2 linked regions of the Homo sapiens genome follow. The protein of the gene in region 1 interacts with the protein of each later gene in a pairwise test. Each region holds a gene or a part of one and is shown in the gene's direction. Other genes may lie near its edges. The genes, in order: SLC37A3 and ZNF177.

The links.
Region 2: the proteins of SLC37A3 (region 1) and ZNF177 interact in a two-hybrid assay, tested with the Homo sapiens proteins (one large-scale study listed by BioGRID and IntAct).

The regions. Positions count from the first base shown.
Region 1 is NC_000007.14:140,339,323-140,343,147, reverse strand, and holds part of SLC37A3 (sugar phosphate exchanger 3), read left to right. Parts: intron 1-3,825. UniProt on the Homo sapiens protein: Unlike the other SLC37 members, lacks glucose-6-phosphate antiporter activity.
Region 2 is NC_000019.10:9,369,386-9,373,210, forward strand, and holds part of ZNF177 (zinc finger protein 177), read left to right. Parts: intron 1-2,224; exon of another isoform or gene 2,225-2,367; intron 2,368-3,825. UniProt on the Homo sapiens protein: May be involved in transcriptional regulation.

The DNA.
Region 1 (3,825 bases):
TCCTTCTGCCCCAGCCCACCATCCCCTTCTTTCTTTCCAGGCTGAACTTGGTATTCCGTGGTGGGGGGTGCTTCTTGTTATCCCCACCTGGCATGTGGACCCCACCATTGCTGTCTCCCGTCTCCCTCTCCCAGACACTCTACTGCATACACGTTCCTTCCTGGGCCCCGCCAGACATGGCCATGGACTCTGCAGCTGCTTCTGAATCACTCGCTCTGCTTCCTGTGTATCCAAAAATCTCTGACTGTATCTCAAAGAGTGGCCCATAAGTGTCTGGTATCAGAATCATCTGGGACACTCATTAAAGTACAGAACACCAAGCATACTACAGACTTGCTGAGTTCGAACCTACAGATCTGTATTTTCAACAAGGCTTCTTGGTGATTCTTCCACACTCAGATGTTTGAGATCCCTACACTAAGATTGGCCTACTATACTTAGAATTATTTACATTGACCTTTTTTTTTTTTGCATAAATTCAACTTTCTCTGGGACAGATATTTCTTTTCTGGCAGAGTCATGAGTCATGCCTCTTCTAGGATATACCACTACAGATTGTAGAGTACTAATTTTGTAGAAAGATGGATCTGAGAGTCATCTGTATGGATAAAAATAGTTGAACCTGTGGAAGTGAATGAAACATTTAATAGGGAAAGAGAATGTTGGCCGAGTCTCAGGGAATGCCCAGTGGTCAAAGAAAGAGGAAGGCAGCAGAGTAACCTGTAGTCAAGGGAACTGCGTTTGAGAAGGCGTTAGTAAGGTCATGGATGTAGAGAGGTCAGGAGAAAGAGAACTGAAGGATTTGTCTTTTAGGCTCTTAGTTTTGACATCTAGGAGGTCATTAATAACCTTGAAGATTATTGTTACTTGCTTGATGGGGGTGAATTGCTGATGTCTGATTGCTAGTGGTTAATGAGAGATAAGTATTGAGGTAAAGTAAGCCATGTTAATACTTTGACTACCTAGCCGTATTTTAATAGTCTATATGCACTTGTTAATGTCTGTCTCTCCCACTGTAACATAAGCTTCCTGAGCGCAGCATTTTGTTGTATGTTCTTCTGTCACCTTAGTACCTAGAACAGTGCCTGGCACACAGTAGACATTACTTGTGGAATGAATGACTGATATGCTTGGCATATTTGATTATAAGACTAAAGGGCAAAAAACCCCAAAGAAACAAAAACCTTAGCAAAGCCTTGAAAAATACGCTTACCTGATCATGCCCTGGAGCGGGAATCGAAAAATGCTCCCAGCCATCAGTTCAGACGTCTTCACCTATGGGGTAGAGAGTGGCTGCATTGGGCATCCTTTTCTGACATTATATTATTTTAAGTTATCCTTCCTTACGAATGTTTTCTTCACTAACTAAATGGGTGCATTATAATGAGTATTTCAGAGAATTTGCTTTTATTCAGATTGCCTCACCTGCCAGTATCCAGATCCCTCACTGTGAACTTGGGTCCTAGACTGACCTTCATGGTTGGGGAAGCACGTCTGGAGTAAATCACTGTTAGCTTTACTCATTCCTCTTCCATGTTGAGTTTTGAATGATTTCCCATTGCCTAAGGGGTGAAATCCCAAACTCTGTGACTTAGCGTTAACCTCTATCAGCTCTGTCCTTAGCCAGTGTACTAATTTACCCTGAATAACTTTGTTACCCCGTCTTTCCCTGACTTCCCAAGTAAAGAATTGTTTCTTCTTCAGGTTGCCATAGCAGTTGATGCGGTTCTGTAGTAGGCACCTGTCACGGTGTAAAGGTGATGCACCGTGACAGGTGCTCTGCTTGTTTCCTTCGTCTTTGTATTCCCAATGCTTAGTGCTTTTGTTGACACATACTAGGGGTTCAGTAAGATTAAATTGCAGTATCTGCCCAAGAGAAATGAGAACAAATGTCCACATTAAAACTTGTACATGAGGCTAGGTGTGGTGGCTCATGCCAGTAATCCCAGCACTTCGGGAGGCCAAGGCAGGAGAATTACTTGAGGCCAAGAGTTCAAGACCAGCCCAAGCAACATAGTGAGACCCTCATCTCTACAAAAAATAAAAAGTTAGCTGAGCATGGTGGTATGTGCCTGTCCCAACTACTTAGGAGGCTGAGACAGGAGGATCGCTTGAGCCTGGGAAGTCAAGGCTGCAGTGAGCCATGATCACACCACTCCAGTCCAGCCTGGGTGACAGAGCCAGACCCTGGCTCTCTCTCTCTATTTTTTTTTTTTGAGACAGCATCTGGCTCTTATGCCCAGGCTGGAGTGCAGTGGCAGGATCTTGGCTCACTGCAACCTCTGCCTTCTGGGACTCAAGCAATTTTCCCACTGCAGCCTCCCAAGTAGCTTGGACTGCAGGTACCCACCACCATGCCCAGCTAATTTTTGTATTTTTTTTGTAGAGACAGGGTTTCACCACATTGCCCAGACTGGTCTCAAACTCCTGGGCTCAAGTGATCCTCCTGCCTCAGCCTCCCAAAGTGCTAGGATTACAGGCATGAGCCACTTGCCTGGACAAGACCCTGTCTAAAAAAAAAAAAAAAGACAAAGTTGCAGTCAGTTTGGAGCCCCCCATGCTTCCTGTAGTGGATGATGAGACCTCTGCTTTTTTGCTACACATGATGTGATCTAATATAAATCACATAGTCGTTCTGCATTAATTTTTTTCACTTGTACATTTCAGTAATAATGTGATTGAAGAATGCTACCCTTTTGTGTCTGCGGCCAAATTGATTTTTGACAAGGGTGCCAGGACCATTCAATGGGGAAAGGATGGTCTCTCAATAAATAGTATTGGGAAAACTGGATATCCACGTGAAAAGAATGAAGTTGGAGCTGAGGAGTGGGAGAGGAAAGAAAAAAAAAAAAAAGAATGAGGTTGGACCCTAACCTTACCTCATATGCAAAAATTACCTCAAAATGGATTAAAGGCCTAACTTGAAGAACTTAAAATTATGAAACTCATAGAAGAAAACAGGGACAAATCTTCATGACAAATATGTACAAATGACCAATAAGCACATGAAGAGTCTCAGCATCCTTAGTCATTGGGAAAATGCAAATCAAAAACACAGTGAGCTGTGACTTCATGCTTACTACGATGGCTGTAATTAAAAAACAGGAAAGGGCCGGGCGCGGTGGCTTAAGCCTGTAATCCCAGCACTCTGGGAGGCCGAGGCGGGCGGATCACGAGGTCAGGAGATGGAGACCCTCCTGGCTAACACGGTGAAACCCCGTCTCTACTAAAAATACAAGAAAAATTGGCTGGGCGTTGTGGCGGGTGCCTGTGGTCCCAGCTACTTGGGAGGCTGAGGCAGGAGAATGGCGTGAACCCGGGAGGTGGAGCTTGCAGTGAGCTGAGATTGTGCCACTGCACTCCAGCCTGGGTGACAGAGTGAGACTCCATCTCAAAAAAAAAAACAAACAGGAAAGGTGACTGGTGCTGGCAAGGATGTGCAGAAATTGGAGCCCTGCATTGCTGGTGGGAATGCAAAATGATGCAGCTTCTGTGAAAAATACTTTGGTGCTTCTTCCAAAAAATTTAAATAGAATTACCATATGACCCAGCACTCCTAGGTATTTCCCGAAAGATTGAAAACTGGGGGCCGGGCGCGGTGGCTCATGCCTGTTATCCCAGCACTTTGGGAGACCGAGGTGGGCAGATCACTTGAGGTCAGGAGTTCGAGACCAGCCTGGCCAACATGGTGAAACCCTGTCTCTACTAAAAATACGAAAATTAGCTGGATGTGGTGGCAGGTGCCTGTAATCCCAGCTACTCAGGAGGCTGAGGCAGGATAATCGCTTGAACCTGGGAGGCGGAGGTTGCAGTGAGCCAAGATCA
Region 2 (3,825 bases), on another chromosome or scaffold:
TCTCAAAATCTATGAAATTAATTTAGCAAACAAACTTTATTTTGGTTAATATTCACCTGGTATATCTTTCTTATTTTTGAGACTCAATTTTTATGTGTTGTTGTGGATTTTAGTGCATCTAATGAAATAACATAGAGCTAGTTTATCTTAATCTACCAGGACAGTCTGTTTTTAAACTGCAGAATTTAGCCCATCTGTACACTTACTGTTATTGATACAGTCAGACATTTTTTACCATCTTACATTTTACATTGTGCTTTTCATTTGACCTATTTTTTTTGTTTCATTTCCCTTATTTTTCTTACCTTTGGAATTGAGATTTTTTTTTAACCTAATTCCATTTTCTCTTCTAGACTGTGAGTTAAACTCACTATGTCCATCCTTTGAATTGTTACCCTAGCTATTTTATCATGCATACTTACAGTCTAAACCTAATCAATATTGTGAGTCCCCAGTGGAAGAATACAAGGAACATACTACTCAATCACCTCCTTCCCAATTTATATATTATTTAGTATTAGGATTGAGCTTATTTTTCCATGTCACGAATTTGGTATTATTACCATTTTATATAATAAAGGTTTGCTTAATTTTATCCATTTTACCTTTGTTCATTCTACTTAACATTTTGGGTCTTCCAGTTCCTATCTCCTGAAGTACTTTTAAGTTACTTCTGTGATGGTCTTTTTGGATGGGTAAGTTGTCTCAGGTCTTTATTTTAAAATGCCTTTATTTGACTCTCCATTTATTTTTCTTAAGCTTTTAATCATGAAAATTTTTAATTCTCCACAAAAGTAGAATAGTACAGTTGTCTCTCATATCCATGGGGGACTGGTTCCAGGACCCCCACATGGCTTCCAAATTCCACAGTCACAAATTCCTTATATAAAATAGCATTGTATTTGCATAGAACCTACACACATCCTCCCATAGATGCTATTTTTTCCCTCCCATTTACTTTAAGTCATCACTAGATTACTTACAGTACCTAGTACAATAAGTGTTATGTAAGTGGTTGGTTTGTTTTTTTTTTGTTTTTTTTTTAAGAGATGGGGTCTCATTCTGTTGCTCAGGCTGGAGTACAGTGGTGTGATCATAGCTCACTGCAGCCTGAAACTCCTGGACTCAAGTAATCCTCCCACCTCAGCCTCCCTAGTAGCTGGGACCACAGGCATGCGCCACCACGCCTGGATAATTTAAAATAGATACATATTTTTGTAGAGACAGGGTGCTGCTTTATTGCCCAGGCTAGTCTCAAACTCCTGGCTTCAAGGCATCCTCCTGCCCCAGCTTTCCAAAGTGCTGGGATTACTGGTGTGAGCCACTGTGCCGGGCCATAAATAGTTATGCTGTATTGTTTAAGGAATAATGACAAGGGGGAAGGTCTACATGTTCAGTACAGACACAAGCATTCATCTTTTTTCCACATATTTTTGATCTGTGGTCGAGTAGCCAACAGATACAGAGGGCTGACTGTATAATGAATTCTCATGTCCTTAACACCCAGCTTTGACAGTTACCAATATTTTGCACATCTTGCATCATCTAGCGCTGAGCTGTCCAATACAGTAGCCACTAGCCTCATGTGGCTATTGAAGTTTAAATGCTCATTTCAAGTATTCAGTAGCTATCCGTACATGATTAGTGGTTACTGTATTAGATACTGCAAATAAATATTGAATAATGCTGGGTTTTCCCCCCAGATTTGTTTTTAAAGCAAATTCCAGACATCCTGTCATTTCATCAGTATATTACTAACTGTGCATCTCTAGTTGGTTCATCACCACTACTCCATTATCCCACCTAACAAAGTCTGACGTTCCCTGATTGGCTACAGAATATCTTTTTACATTTGGTTTGTTCAAATGAGAATCTTAACAGGGTCCCAACATTTTTTTTTTATTTTAGACCCCTTAAGTTTCTATTGTGTCTGTTCTCTTCCTCCTCCCTTTTCATTTTTTTAATCCACTGATTTATTGAAGAAATAAAGTTATTTGTTCTTAAAATGTCCCACATCATATATGGATTTTGCTGACTGGTTTGTTTTCATTGCTTAACCTGGTTATCTTTGTATTTCTTATAAAGAGTAGTTAGATAGTTTGTCTAGCGTTTTAGGTTGATAAGTTATTTTTTTCTCAGCATACTGAAGACATTGTCCTGCTTTCTTCTGACGTCCATTGTTGCTGTTGAGATGTCAGCTATCAGTCTGTTTTTCCTTTTATAGGTGACCTGTGTTTTTCCCCTGGCTGCTTTGGAAATTATGGGAAAAAATCAAATACCAAGGAAGAAAAATCTATAATGAAATTAGATGTGGATTTCTTTTTATGTATTCAGCTTGGGGGCTTATGATACTTCTAGTACCCAAAGGTTAGTGTCTTTCACTAATTCAAGAAAATTGCTAGGTTTTCATCTAATAGTGCGATCAAAGTTCTGATCTGGTAGTTAATACTGGCACTGAATTTCTCATTTCAGTGAGTTTATTTTTCATTTCTAAAAATTGTTTTTTAAACTAACCATTTTATAGTATCTTAATCTATATCCATTCAAATTTTTATTAAGCTTTTATATATTTTAAAATATATCTAAAAGGGTAATATCCAAAGTGTTATGCTTTTTACCACCTGACACCTGTGTGTTAGCTATGTCTTACACATGGTACATTGTGTATTTGTGTTTCACAATTTCTTAAACTGTGCCTTCCTCAATTTACTTAGAACTTTGTATATAAGATTTTTTCTCAAGACCTGACTTAAAGTTGATTTTCCAGAGATAGGTCGATTTGCTTGCACTAGTTGCTTGGGGACAATGCCACTTAGGACCCTCTTTAAGTGAAATTATTCCCTTGAGGTTGTTTGAACTACAGAAATGAATTTGGACTGAAATCTAAAAGAGAGCACTTGTGTATACAGATCCTCAAGAGAGATTTGCTTTTTATTATACCTGATGGGTACAGTTCCTTGCTTCACGCTTTCATATGGAAATTTTACTTTCTTTTTAAAAAACTGTTCACTGTGGATTTTCAGTCATACCTAGGAATAGAGTGCTATAAAGCCACTATGTACCTACCACCCAGCTTCAATGATTGTCACCATTTTGCCATTCTTATTACATCTGTTCTCTCCCTTGCTTCCTTTCATCATTGAGCTTTCTTTTCCTTTTTTTTTTTTTTTTTTTTTTTTGAGATGGAGTCTTGCTCTGTCTCCCAGGCTGAGGTGCAGTGGCATGACCTCAGCTCACTGCAACTTCTGCCTCCCAGGTTCAAGCAATTCTCCTGCCTCCCCTCCCGAGTAGCTGGGATTACAGGCACCTGCCACCACACCTGGCTAATTTTTGTATTTTTAATAGAGAAAGGGTTTCACCATGTTGTTCAGGCTGGTCTTGAACCTCCTGACCTCAAGCAATCCACCCACCTTGGCCTCCCAAAGTGCTGAGATGACAGGCGTGAGCCACCACACCCTGCCAGTTTTGTTTTTCTGAAGCATGGTTTTCCAGCTTTCTTGAGGTATAATTGACAAATAATAAAAATTATATATGTTTAAGGTGTACAACATAATGTTTTGATCTACCTGTCCATTCTGAAATGATCATCACAGTCAAGCTAATTAACATATCCATCCCCTCACTTACTTTTGTAAGATGCACTCTCTTGGAAAATTTCAAATATACAGTACATCATTAACTATAGTCACCAAGCCATACATCAGGTCTCCAAAACTCAGCCATCTTATAACAGCAAATACATACCCATTGACCAACATCTCCCCATTTCCCTTGCCCCTTGGTAATCACCTTTCTAATGCTTCTAGGAGTTTGACTTTTCTAGAT